4 separate regions of the Homo sapiens genome follow, and all the other regions are reported to be linked to region 2. The links are microRNA targets in miRTarBase. Many come from high-throughput screens and were not tested one by one. Region 2 holds a microRNA gene; each other region holds the end of a gene's coding sequence.
The links. Region 2 holds the annotated microRNA hsa-miR-3688-3p (UAUGGAAAGACUUUGCCACUCU, at 2,207-2,228, opposite strand). A microRNA usually pairs through its seed, bases 2 to 8, with sites in the 3' UTR of a target mRNA and lowers its output. Matches are read on the target gene's strand: a 7mer-m8 pairs with bases 2 to 8, a 7mer-A1 pairs with bases 2 to 7 and ends in A, and an 8mer does both.

Region 1: miRTarBase lists SLC16A6 as a target of hsa-miR-3688-3p. Seed matches in the 3' UTR shown: 7mer-A1 at 2,540-2,546.
Region 3: the mRNA of JOSD1 is a reported target of hsa-miR-3688-3p. Seed matches in the 3' UTR shown: 7mer-m8 at 2,429-2,435.
Region 4: miRTarBase lists PRDX5 as a target of hsa-miR-3688-3p. The part of its 3' UTR that is shown has no 7-base or 8-base seed match.

The regions. Positions count from the first base shown.
Region 1 is chr17:68,266,316-68,269,441 of GRCh38, forward strand. It overlaps SLC16A6 (solute carrier family 16 member 6), which reads right to left. Exons shown (of 6, transcript NM_004694.5): 6 at 711-3,031. The coding sequence ends at 2,781. It also overlaps a transcript of ARSG not described here. Among named protein-coding and RNA genes, the nearest start is that of AMZ2, 20 kb to the left of the region's middle.
Region 2 is chr4:159,127,963-159,131,088 of GRCh38, reverse strand. MIR3688-2 (microRNA 3688-2) reads right to left here and starts at 2,284; the gene lies at 2,198-2,284. The region is part of intron 1 of RAPGEF2 (Rap guanine nucleotide exchange factor 2); the gene reads right to left. It overlaps MIR3688-1 (microRNA 3688-1), which reads left to right and starts at 2,195; the gene lies at 2,195-2,287.
Region 3 is chr22:38,685,093-38,688,218 of GRCh38, forward strand. JOSD1 (Josephin domain containing 1) reads right to left here. Exons shown (of 5, transcript NM_001360236.2): 5 at 451-2,909. The coding sequence ends at 2,810. TOMM22 (translocase of outer mitochondrial membrane 22) reads left to right here. Exons shown (of 4, transcript NM_020243.5): 4 at 1-329. Among named protein-coding and RNA genes, the nearest start is that of TOMM22, 4.7 kb to the left of the region's middle.
Region 4 is chr11:64,321,312-64,324,437 of GRCh38, reverse strand. It overlaps PRDX5 (peroxiredoxin 5), which reads right to left. Exons shown (of 6, transcript NM_012094.5): 6 at 2,627-2,852. The coding sequence ends at 2,747. Among named protein-coding and RNA genes, the nearest start is that of PRDX5, 4.8 kb to the right of the region's middle.

The sequences.
Region 1 (3,126 bases), not on the chromosome of region 2:
AGTTCGTATGAAACTCAACATAAAATAAAATCGTCCTGTTTTCAATGATCAAAGTATATATATGTATATATATGTATATATATACTTTTTTGTATAAAAAGTATATATATGTATATATATACTTTTTTTTGTATAAAAAGTATATATATGTATATATATACTTTTTTTTTGTATAAAAAGTATACAAAAAAAAAAAGACATAAAAAAGTTTAGGCTGCACATGATGGCTCACACCTGTAATCCCAGCACTTTGAGAGGCCGAAGCAGGTGGATCACCTGAGGTCAGGAGTTTGAAGCCAACCTGGCCAACATGGTGAAACCCAATCTCTAGTAAAAATACACAAAATTAGCCAGGCATGGTGGCGGGCACCTGTAATCCTAGCTACATGGGAGGGTGAGACAGGAGAATCACTTGAACCTGGGAGGCGGAGGTTGCAGTGAGCTGAGATTGTGCCATTGCACTCCAGCCTGGGCAACAAGAGCGAAACTCCATCTCAAAAAATAATAATAATAAATATAAGTAAATAAAAAGTTCAGTAGAAACTTCTTGGGAAACTTTATGTGTCTCTAGTAGAGTTAAAAGGTTTTGCAGAAGATAAACGTTAAAAAATTATTTATTTGGAGTGAATCTTTGGTGAGTTTTTATAACTTTAATTGCCTCAAACACTGAATGCTGTGAGAGTCAATAAAAAATCTTAGAAGAGAATCGGTCTCTTTAAATAAAAAATCCATAAATTTATTGCAAATCTAGAAGTACCAGAATGTCACTAATACAGAACAGATCAGCAATCTTGTTTGTATTTTCTTCCAAACATTTAAAACCTTGATTATTGACATACTGAAATTGGCATACATTTTGTTTTCATGCAGATAACAGAATAGACATGGAGCAGATCCCTCAGAAATCAGTTATAAATATTAAATTGTATTGAACATTCATAGTAAAAAATATGTCGTAAAGTGCTGAAGTCATGTAAGTCTGCAAAACTGCCACAAGCTCAAAGTTCTCAAGCAGTGACAGAGATTTGCTACATCCACCTTGTTTTAGATTATGCCTGTTTTTGACAGACACTTTGTCATTTCCTCCCCCACCCTCCCCAAAGTTTTATAGATTGTCCTATTTCTATGGCTGATAAGATGCTCTACAAAATGTAGCAGGTGGTGATGAACTATGCCACTTTCATTTCAGTGCAGAGAAATATTCAAGCTTGTGTGTACCTGTAACCAAACTAGGCTTGTTATGTTTTTCCCCCTGAGTTGTCATAAATTAACATTAACGATGAATAAAGATGGAGCAGCAAGCATTGACCATCACCTGCAGGGTGAGATTGTGGTAAAATAGGTGAGTAAAAAGTCCACCTATTATCCTGACACTTGCCCTCCTTACAGAAAACTGCTAACGTGAGCAATACTATACATGTAGTGTGACTCCAAAAAAAAAGGAAGAATAAAACAAACAAAACAAAACAATGACCAGTTACCCGATACCTCTGGCAACTTAGACCAATCAAGTCATGTGTTATAGAAGATGTAAATTGCAACTTGTAACTCGCTATAACATAATTGTCTCTGTTACCCCCATGTGAAATACAGAAATGCTTCAATAATTAGATGGTTTTTTCTTTAAATCAGAAATGCTTTAACAATTCTCTGAAATATAATTCTGATCAAAGAAGTTCCTCAAGTATTCTTAAATGATAAAACAAATTAGTTTTGAAAGCTAAGGCGATTTGCAATCCATTATTTTTTCCCCTTTAATAGCACACGTTGCCCCTAATCAAATGGAAGAATCATGACAACTTGGCCTTTTATGAAAGTATTTTTACAAGATAAGACGTATTCTGTGAGGCATTTAAAGGATTGCAGAAAGGAGGTAAAAATGCTGCTTATGTCTCAGATTTTATTTCTTTTGATTACTTTAATCATCCTAGAATAACTTAATAATAAATAGCGGTTTAAATTAAAGACACTACAGTCACATATTTCTGTATAACTAAAAGCAACAGGAAACACATTTTTAAATGCCATTTTGTATATTCTGTACTGAAACACTTCTGATAAGGACTGGCCATAAAAAGAAGTGGTAATCTTCACATTTATGAAGTTCAAGTTATATATATATATATATACTTAAAATTTGTTTATTAGTAAAATGTTTGGTCTTAAACTATATTTCATTTCCAGCAAGCAGAGGCCGTAATTTGTTAACGGGAACCTTGGTATTTTACAAAGGGTTTAACAAAAACTATTTATTCATATTTCTGAAAATTAGGAATTTTAAAAATGATTGAAGTCTTTTTTTTTTTGACTGGCCAATTTCATTTCAATGACCTGGGTTGGATGTTGTTTTATTCAGGAGAGTAGTTTATTCAGACAAGACCATAGGAAGAAAGAAAAGAAAAAAAGAAAATCATTTATCCCACGTGAAAGCTTTTAAAACCACTTTGCCAGTTCATGTCACTATTTTAATATCGGAATGTGAACCAAAGAGTCTTTCTACATATCTCTTGTATTGCTACTGAATACAGCCAGATTTATATATGGAAGAGTGCTTGGTTGTTTTTTGTTTTGGCTTTAAAAACAAGCAAAAAAAAAAAGCTTAAAACAAAACAAAACAAAACAAAAGCGATGTTGGTAGTGCTCTTCACATACACATTCCCTTTAAAATGTAGTTTTGAAAGTGGAGTAGAGGGGTTAGCTCCTCTGCCTCCTTGTGTCCCCGTTGGGCCCACCCCATCCCTCTCCAGCCAACACAGTGGCTGTTGTTGTAAGAAAGTGTGTCATACCGGCTCCATTTGCACGTGAACTCTGTGCTCATTTTTTGCAAGATCCATTTCCAGAAAGTCTTCAGGTATGTCCTGTAAAGTCTTCCCACGATGGCTCACTACCTTTGTTTCACCTGAGTGATGATGCTGGCACAGTCCCATCTTACACGGTCTCACCAGGGCGAGGCACACAGCAGCCAGGGCCATGCCAGCTGCGCAGGAGTAGAAGGCCCTGCTGTAGATCTTACTTTGGTCCACCAACAAACCTGGAAGAGAGCATGGCGTCCGTTAACAGCATCCTTCCTAGACATAAGCCCCTCACCCAGGCGACCATCCCATTCAGAAGCCTCTCAGTTTCACT
Region 2 (3,126 bases):
CACACAAAACAACACGCGAAACTCTGTATTATTTTCAAATAAACCTGGAGAGTAAAACATGCTATTTAAAAAGGTAAAGTTAAAATAATAATAGCTGGCTGGGTGTGGCTGCGCCTGTAATCCCAGCACTTTGGGCAGATTGCTTGAGCCCGAAAGCTTGAGACCAGCCTGGGCAACATGGTGAAACCCCGTCTCTACAAAAAATACAAAAATTAGCCAGACGTGGTGGTGCCCGCCTATGGTCCCAGCTACTTGGGAGGCTGTGGTGGGAGGACACCTGAGCCTGAGAGGCGGAGGGTGCAGTGAGCCGAGATTGTGCCACTGCACTCCAGCCTAGGCAACAGAGCAACATCCTGTCCCAAAAAATAAAATAAAATAAAACAATAATAGATAACTTTTATTTAGAGTAATTTATTCGCTAAGCCTGGGTCTAAATTAAAAGAAGCCCTTCCAGTCCTACTCTACTAACTCTAATTGTTTAAAAATTTTTAATTTTAATAAAATTAGACTTTAGATCCGAAATTCATCTCTAAAATAAAAATGACCTAGCAGAGAAATTTGAATAAAGAAAAATGTGCATGCCTGTAGTTCTAGCTACTTGGGGGGCTGAGGTGGGAGGATCACTTGAGCTCAAGAATTTAACACTGCAGTGAGCTATAATCACACCACTGCAATTCCACCTAGGTGACAGGGCAAGACCCTGTTGTCAGAGGCATTTGAACCAGAGCCAACTCCATCTTAAATAGGGGCTGGGTAAAATAAGGCTGAGACCTACTGGACTGCATTCCCAGGAGGTTAGACATTCTTGGTCACAGGATGAGATAAGAGGTCACCACAAGATACAGGTCAAAAAGACCCTGCTGATAAGACAAGGTAAAGAAGCAGACAAAACCCACCAAAACCAAGATGACAACAAAAGTGACCTCTGGTAGTGCTCACTGTTCATTATTCATTAATTATAATGCATTAGATTGCTAAAAGACACTCCCACTAGCGCCATGACAGTTTACAAATGCCATGGCAATGTCTGGAAGTTTCCCTGTATGGTCTAAAATAGGGAGGAACACCTCAGTTCTGGGGAAAATCCCCACCCCTTTCCAGGAAAACTCATAAATAATTCACCCCTTGTTTAGTATATAATCAAGAAATAACCATAAAAACAGCCAGCCACCAGTCCTCAGGGCTGCTCTATGGAGTAGCCGTTCTTTTATTCCCATACTTTCTTAATAAACTTGCTTTCACTTTATTCTATGAACTCACCCCAAATTCTTTCTTGCCCAAGATCCAAGAACCCTCTTTTCAGGGTCCGGATTGGGACCCCTTTCCAGTAACACTGTCTCGAAAAAGAGAAAAACATCCTAACTAAATTAGAACTTCATTTTGTAAAAGTCTTTATTAACAACAACATAGACATTTACACCTGCTCTTATTATAGGGGGAGTAGAGTGGATAGAATAGGGACTTTGAAATCAGTTATTTGTTCTTAAGCAAATTACTTAATCCCTGCATCTCAGTTTCTTCATTGGTAAATTGATAATAGTACCTCATGCTTTATAAGGTTGATGTTAGAACTGAATAAACCATAAGAAAACATCTAGGTGACTTTCTGGCACATAACACACACTTTATAAATGACAACTGCTTTTCTATGTCTTTCCTGAACTGTTCTGAGATATGTGCTCCCTAAACATAAAATAAAGAACTGACACCATAACTGTAAGCATTATGTATTATTACACTGACAGGCAACCTGAAACCATCAGTGTGGCACTTTCAAAAGGTCTATATTATCAAAGTAACTCTTAAGAGATAACTAGAGGCATAATATAAAGATTCATTAATATTGCACCTTTCAATGGTGAGCATTTATAATATGAAAGCAATTCTAATTGCTTTTCAAATTCTTCAAAAAGAAAGCGATAAGATTTCTATTCAAGATTCTTATTCTTATTACATTTCTATGCAAGTTTCTGCCTCCATGTCTAAGATCACATAGCAGCATTCAAATTTAAATACAGAATGATGACAGATTTCAATAATCAAAAGACTGCATCCATTCATATCATACAATTACAAATCTTTTCTTCTACAAATATGTATTCCAAAAAATATACTTAAAATAGATTTATATATATATATATATACACACACACACACACACACACACCCCCCATATGTATATATATACACACACTCTTCACTTTCAAGAGTGGCAAAGTCTTTCCATATGTATGTATGTATGTCTGTTACACATATGGAAAGACTTTGCCACTCTTTAAAGTGAAGAACTTTTGGTTCAGCTTCTTTATTTAAATAAAATGATCAAAACTATTTAAGATACATTGGTGTAAAAGAGTTTTTACACAATGGTTCTTTGAAGTCTGAAAATGTTTTGGCAAAGAGAAAGCTCTTTACAAAACTCAACATGAAGCCTGTACTTCTAAAATAATCCATATAAGTATTAACCTGCATAACCAAATAATAATTTGAAAACATGGTTTTACTGCTTTGTATTCACCAAAAAGAGGGGTGAATAAACTACTAGCCAAATGTTAAGAATATTAAGAAGATCTTAGCCTATTATCTTTATAAATGACTCACAATTTCTACTGACACTAATATTTTTATTATGTCAGCAATAGTAATACTTTACATTCATGTAGACTTTTCCATTGCGAAGTACTTTCTCATATATTAAACTTACGTAACCCTGAAAATAGGTATGGAAAGCATTGTGTTCCATTTTACAGGTGAGAAAACTAAGATCCAATGAAAATTTCCAGGGTCACGTGGAGAGTAACTGGATACAACATCAGTCCCTCTCTTCCAGCTAGTCTTCCTCAGTAGAATTAGGCCCCAAAATGTACTATTAGATTGACAGTAATGTAAAAGTTAAGACATTATTAGTCTCAGTATTTTTTCTTCTTGGATTTTACTAGATGAAATAGAACGTACAATTTAAAGTATCTCCTAACAAAAGAAAGGTTATAAGGTACATGTATAAAACAGGGAGTTCAAAATTCAAGGAAAGCAAACATATATATACATACCTAAATATAATCCAAGGCAATAAACTGCAGTCCAGGGCATAGAGATTCATAACACCATGCCTAGAATTCAGGACTT
Region 3 (3,126 bases), not on the chromosome of region 2:
TTTTGTGTGTTTATCAGATCAACCAACACTACAATCTAGGTGGTACTGTTCCCATTTTACAGAAGAGGAAACAGCCACAGAAAGGTAATTGCTCAAGGCTGCAGAGTTAAGTGCTAGACCTGGATTCAAATCCAGGCAGTCCAGCTACAGAACACTGCTGCTGTGCGCTCGGGATGGTGGGGCTGGGCCCAGGCCCGCTGGGTATACATGATCTTTCACTTGTTAACTAGGGAAAAACACTAGTCACCAGTGTGGTACAAACTTGTACTTAGGTGGATTCTTCAAATTGTCAAGATTAGTTTTTATAAATTAAAATAGACTGAAAAATGTCTTAGAGACATCTTTTGAACCAAATCCCATTTCAGTGACTATTTTGTCTGGATTTCTCAGGTGAAAGAGTTAATCAAAGAATGATATGTCTCTAAAAGATGACTTACGCTGGCAATGAACTCCTTTTAAAACAGCGTCATACTAAAGTTTATTTTTCTTTACACAATTATAGAATTCAGGCAGACAAGGAGACATATATGGAGTTTTCCATTTTTAATATTTGGTTAAACAAAATACATCTTTTGTAAACAAACGCAGCACAAGGCCAACAACAAAAAGGAATAAAAGCAAGAAAAACAAAAAGCCTAGGGTTGCCCGTTATTGGGCATCAGGGTCAGGCCTGTTCACTTCCTTAAAGGAAGTGGGGCTTTTTGCCCTTGGGCATCAGCATGGGTCCCTGTTCCTAAGCACCAGAATTGGATATGAACAGAGAAACCAGCCCTGAAATGTTTAAGCGTCTTTGCATATCCCATTGGCTCATGGACTCCAAGTGCATGGGGACTCTTTCAAGTGCCATTTGCACAGGCCCAAGTGGATTTGTGGAGAGGAGTTTCCTCCTCTACCCAAGAAATGGCTTACTATCTGACAGTGCCAGTGGCCCCAAGGTCCTGCTTGTGACAATCAGCAAGGTTGGCTGTAATGTCTGGCTGGTGGTGGTTGGAATGTCATTGTGCAGGGCAGGAAAAGAGCTCCCTGTGGTGCCAAGCAGGTCTGGTGTAGAAAATGGTGCAGAAGAGACTGCGGCCAGTTGCTGAGAAGATATAACGCAGTAGCCGCTTGGTGGCCTGTTACTCAGCATTAAAAAAACGGCCTTGTTGGATTGAAGATACATGTGCAGAAAAAGTGCTGGTGTCAACATGCACTCCAGTCACAGGGGGGAGAAAGCCCAGCTTCACCCCGTTAAGCTTGCTCAGGATCAACATGCAAGCCCCAGGCTGGCTTTGCTGCTGGAGAGAAGTCTGGCCAGTGGGACAGCTCTCAGACCTGCCACGACCATTGATCTGAGGGCCAGCAGGTCACCCCTGCCTGCCACCTGCCTTGAGGCAACCACATCCACTTTGGAGACACGCATATGGTATGATACTTATTTCTCCTCTTTTGTTTTCCAAAGTTACAAGAGAAAAGTGGCCTACAACTATCTGAAGAGGTAGGGGCGGGTTGAACTTCCATTGATACAGAGAGGAAACGACATGAAGATGACCAGCCCAGGTCCTATTCCATCCATACAGCACAGAACCACCCAACCTGAGCTTGGCAACTACAGTGGCAGCCTCCGAGCCTAGAGTGTCTACTGAATTGTGGCTGCCCCTACTCCAAGAAGCCTGTCTTCACAATACTTTCCTCACCCAACGCTGCCCCAAATTAGTGGAATTTGATGTCAAAAGCAGACTTTTTTTTCCTGATTTTGCCAGAGTGAGTGAACTGGGAAAACTGCTCTTTGGCTTCTCTTTTGTCCCAGAGCCTCCTAAATCAATGCTGCGAAATGGTAGGGACAACACTGGAGTGAAGAAACCAAGCCACCCCATGGCTGTCCCAGGTTGGCTTTAGCCACATCCTGTTCAGTATCCTCCTCACTTCATACTAGAATATTAGTTAATTTTTCATTATAAAACTCTGCCGGGTGCGGTGGCTCACGCCTGTAATCCCAGCACTTTGGGAGGCCAAGGCGGGCAGATCACTTGAGGTCGGGAGTTTGAGACCAGCCTGACCAACATGGAGAAACCCCATCTCTACTAAAAATACAAAATTAGCCAGGTGTGGTGGCAGGCGCCTGTAATCCCAACTACTTGGGAAGCTGAGGCCTGAGAATCGCTTGAACCAGGAGGTGGAGGTTGCAGTGAGCCGAGATGGTGCCATTGCACTCCAGCCTGGGCAACAAGAGTGAAACTCAGTCTCAAAAACAACAACAAAAAACCTCCACGTATGGCCATAAACCACCCTTAAACCTGGGGATAAGGGTTGGAGACAGCATGCTGTACCGCTGCTAGGGTTTTGGACATGGTTTCCTGAGAGACCTTTATGCTCTGGGTCCTTCAAACCAGTCACATGGGGTTTGTGGGCACTATCTGCAGACCCACTGTTTTCAGACCCAGACAGGATGGAAAGTGGAGGCAGCATCTCTAGGTGAGTCTGGAGCAGCAGTGACAACTCAGCAGAACCTGTGTCAAGTCCTCATAGAAAAGGGAAAATAAGCTAGGATTCCCTCCCCGCTCCACTTTCTCCTCTGTCTCTTAAATAAAACAAGGGTTTGTGACCACTGGCCTTAAGTGCACAGAACTCCTACCTTCCTTGCCCAGGAACAAAACACTGAGTAGTTCTTATAACAGTCCACACGTCTGTCCTATTGCACTGTCAGATCTGAAGGGGAAAAACTTGATGAGATGTTTGGGGAAGTGGCAAGGGCAGACCCACTGTAGAGGCCACAGCACGTCACAGAGGACTGAAGGGGCTGAGGCGAGAGGGAGGTTGGGCAGAACTGTTACACATCGGTCCTCCAACTCTGATGAGCCTCTACCTCTTCTGGTACCACCAGCAGGAGTTCACAGTTCTTTCCTCGCAAATGATGTTTTAGAAACTTCCTATGGAAAAAGAGATAGAGAAAATGAAATGCTGGCAAGTTGCAAATTCCAGTCTCAGGACCACAAAGTCACCTGAAACCTCACTCTACCCTCGGCAGTCCAAAACACATCCCTGTAGTCATCTGGTTTTGGAGGGTTCCACATTTGGTTACCCTCCAATCTGTCCAGTTAAAATTCCAACCTGAATTTTGCTCATCCTTGTAGTTACTGCCAAGAG
Region 4 (3,126 bases), not on the chromosome of region 2:
AGCCCAGATGTCCAGGGCTCTCTGGTCCAGGACACCGTGGCCTGGTCTGCCCTTATCTCCAGGCCTGAAGCCCCACCTGTCCAACCTGGAGACAGCTATGCAAGGTTCTCTTGCCAGGTGCTGTTTAATCTTGGGCCCTCCAGGGCCTGGAGCAGCTTCCAGGGCCAGTCCTCCGTGCCCCCACCCAAGGACGTCCTCACTCCAGCAAGCTCAGCCACATGCTCAGCAGTCAGGGCCACTGAGGCCACAGCCCCACCGCCACCCACACCAGGCTGTCCTAGAGGGCCACCCCAGCCCTGGAAGCCCTCTCAACCCTTCCTAGAGGCCCAGCCAGTGGCAACAGACCTTGGAGGGGACACTTCCTCTAGAGGCCTTGCTTGGCCTCAGCCAGCCCAGATAATAGCCCAGGAGCAGAGGAAACAGGCAGCAGAGTGACAGAGACGGAGCTGGGCTTCCCCGATAGCAGGGAGCTGCCTGGGTAGCGTGGGGTGCACAGCCAGTGGGGTGGGCTATTTGCTACCACCACCCCCTATTTACTAATGGAGACACTCATTAGCTCACAGGTGCCCTGTAGGAAGCTCCACGTCTGTTTTCTCATTTGTATGATGAGAGGATAAAGAGGTGGTATCCGGGAAAGAAAGGGGCTTTGTGTTATGCGTGTCCATGAGGACAACACTGTACCCCCGAGTTTGGCAGGAGAGGAGAGGCAGGCAGTTTACCAGGGCAGCTCGAGGTGCAGTCAGCCTCCTTCCCTGCCCCCACCTGGGACCCCTGAAGGGGTGGCAGGTTGTGGGAGAGAACCACAGTGACAGAGGTTGGTGGGCAGCACGACTCGGGTAGGCTGAGCACCTGCAACCCTGGGCAGGGAGGCTGGCTCCCCTCCTACTGAGTGTCTGTTCTCACAGACGTGACCACAAGCACCCAGCCCCTCCACCTTCAGCAAGCAGCTCCCTGGATGCACCCTCCCTCCCAACACATCTCCACCTCCACCTCCTGGGCATTGCTGTCATCATGGGTCCTGCTCCCTGCTGCCCATCTGGTGCCTCTCCCAGCCTCCCAGCTTGGGGGCTGCACACGGTAGCCCATGGCCAAGGTGCCTGTAGGGTGGAAGGCAAGCTGCTCATCAGCTTCAGAGAGCCCACTGACCTCCAGGCATCCTCTCTTGTCCCCAACATTCCCCCCCTACTCCTGCTACCCACCTTGCTGCGGCAGCATGGGATTGTCCCACCCTCCACCCCTAGGGCTATGGGGCTCACCCCTAGGGCTATGGGCCTCCCTCCGCCTCCCACTTGAGGCGCCACTCCCACTGCCTCAAGGGTCATTTGCTCTATGAGGCCCTGCTTTGACCTTCTCCCTGACCTCTCAAGAGTGTGGCCTGCCTGAGTCAGCAGTGGGGGCTGACCCCTGGGGACCACTACGCAGGAAGTGCCTGGGAGCCAGGTATTGATGTGGTTCATGGCAGGGCAGCTCCACGCGGTGATGGAATGCGGACTCCCTGTAGGTGGCTGAGAGGCAGCAGCAGTCCACACCTCACCAATTCTTGTGAGGGCTGTTACCACACCTGGGGTGGGCAGGCAGGCAGCATCGCGCAGGGCACAGAGGCCCCCTAGACTCCACGCAGTGGGGCCTCACCATCACAGGCGTGGCTTCCCTGCACCAAGGGGCAGAGGCCCAGGAGCAGGGCCTGCCGTGGCAATGGCCCCCATCCCCACACCCTGCTGGTGTCCCCACTTGAGGCCCCTCACACCCAGCCACCACTGGTCAGGCCTCACCAGCATCTTCTCCCCTCCACAGCTCACCTAGACTCTTCCCCCAGGGAGCCCTCCTGGAATGAGCAAGTGCTGTGCCAGAGCCCCTCTCCCTGTCCATCAGATGGTCCTAAAGTGACCTGAGCTCTTCCTGGGATGAGGGTGTGCCCAGGAGGGGGTCAAGTCTGAAAGGATGGTGGGGCTGGGCCCCGGCAGGAATGCTGGGAGCCAAGCTTCCCGCCATGGGGTTTCCAGACTAAATGGCATCAGGCAGCACCCAGAGAGCAGGTACAAAGGCCACACTGTGCGCCACATGCCATCGGCCAGGCCTCGCCCTCTGTGCTGCCTCTGTGGGGAGCGCTTCTTCCCTTCCTCTTCAGATTGCTGGCTCCTTCTCAGTGCTCAGTAACACCTGCCTCAAGGCTGGGCACAGTGGCTCACACCTGTAATCCCAGCACTTTGGGGGGTGGAGGCGGGTGATCACCTGAGGTCAGGAGTTCGAGACCAGCCTGGCCAACATGGTGAAACCCCGTCTCTACCAAAAATACAAAAACTTAGTCGGGCGTGGTGGCAGACACCTGTAATCCCATCTACTGGGGAGTCTGAGGCAGGAAAATCGCTTGAACCTGGGAGGCAGAGGTTGTGGTGAGCCGAGATCATGCCACTGCACTCCAGCCTAGGGGACAGAGTGAAACTGTCTCAAAAAAAAAAAAAAAAAAAAACTTCCCTTGAAAGGCCCTCCCTAGCTCCCCCTTAATTAAGCAGGACCCCCTACATTCTCCCTTTCAGCCCATCTGCGCCCTCACCATTCTCACCCAGTCTGTGATGATGCCAGAATGCCTGGCGCTCAGCGAAACAGCCATTCATAACCAAGGAGATGGCCGCAAACCACAAGTGTTTATTGCAGAAATCTGGCCAACATTCCAATTGCAGGGCCCCAGCACAGGGCTGGGCAGGTGAGATAGGGAGGGGTGGAGGAAGTAATCTGGCCCAGGGCCTCAGAGCTGTGAGATGATATTGGGTGCCAGGCTGCAGGTGAGGCCTGTGCCATCTGGTTCCACATTCAGGGCCTTCACTATGCCATCCTGTACCACCATGGAGAACCTGCCGGAAAGAGGGGCCCAGCCAGCTGCATCAGCCTGGGCTTGGAGGCTGGGCATGGAGACAGGCAGTGAACAGCCAGGGGCCCAAGAGAACTCCAGAGAGGACTCCCCCCACAGAGGACTCTCCCCCACAGAGGACTCACCACCACACAGGACTCTCTCCACACAGAGGACTCTCCCCACAGAGAACTCTCCCCCACACAGGACTCTCTCCCCAGAGGACTCTCCCCTACAGAAGACTCTCCCCACACAGGACTCTCTCCCACACAGGACTC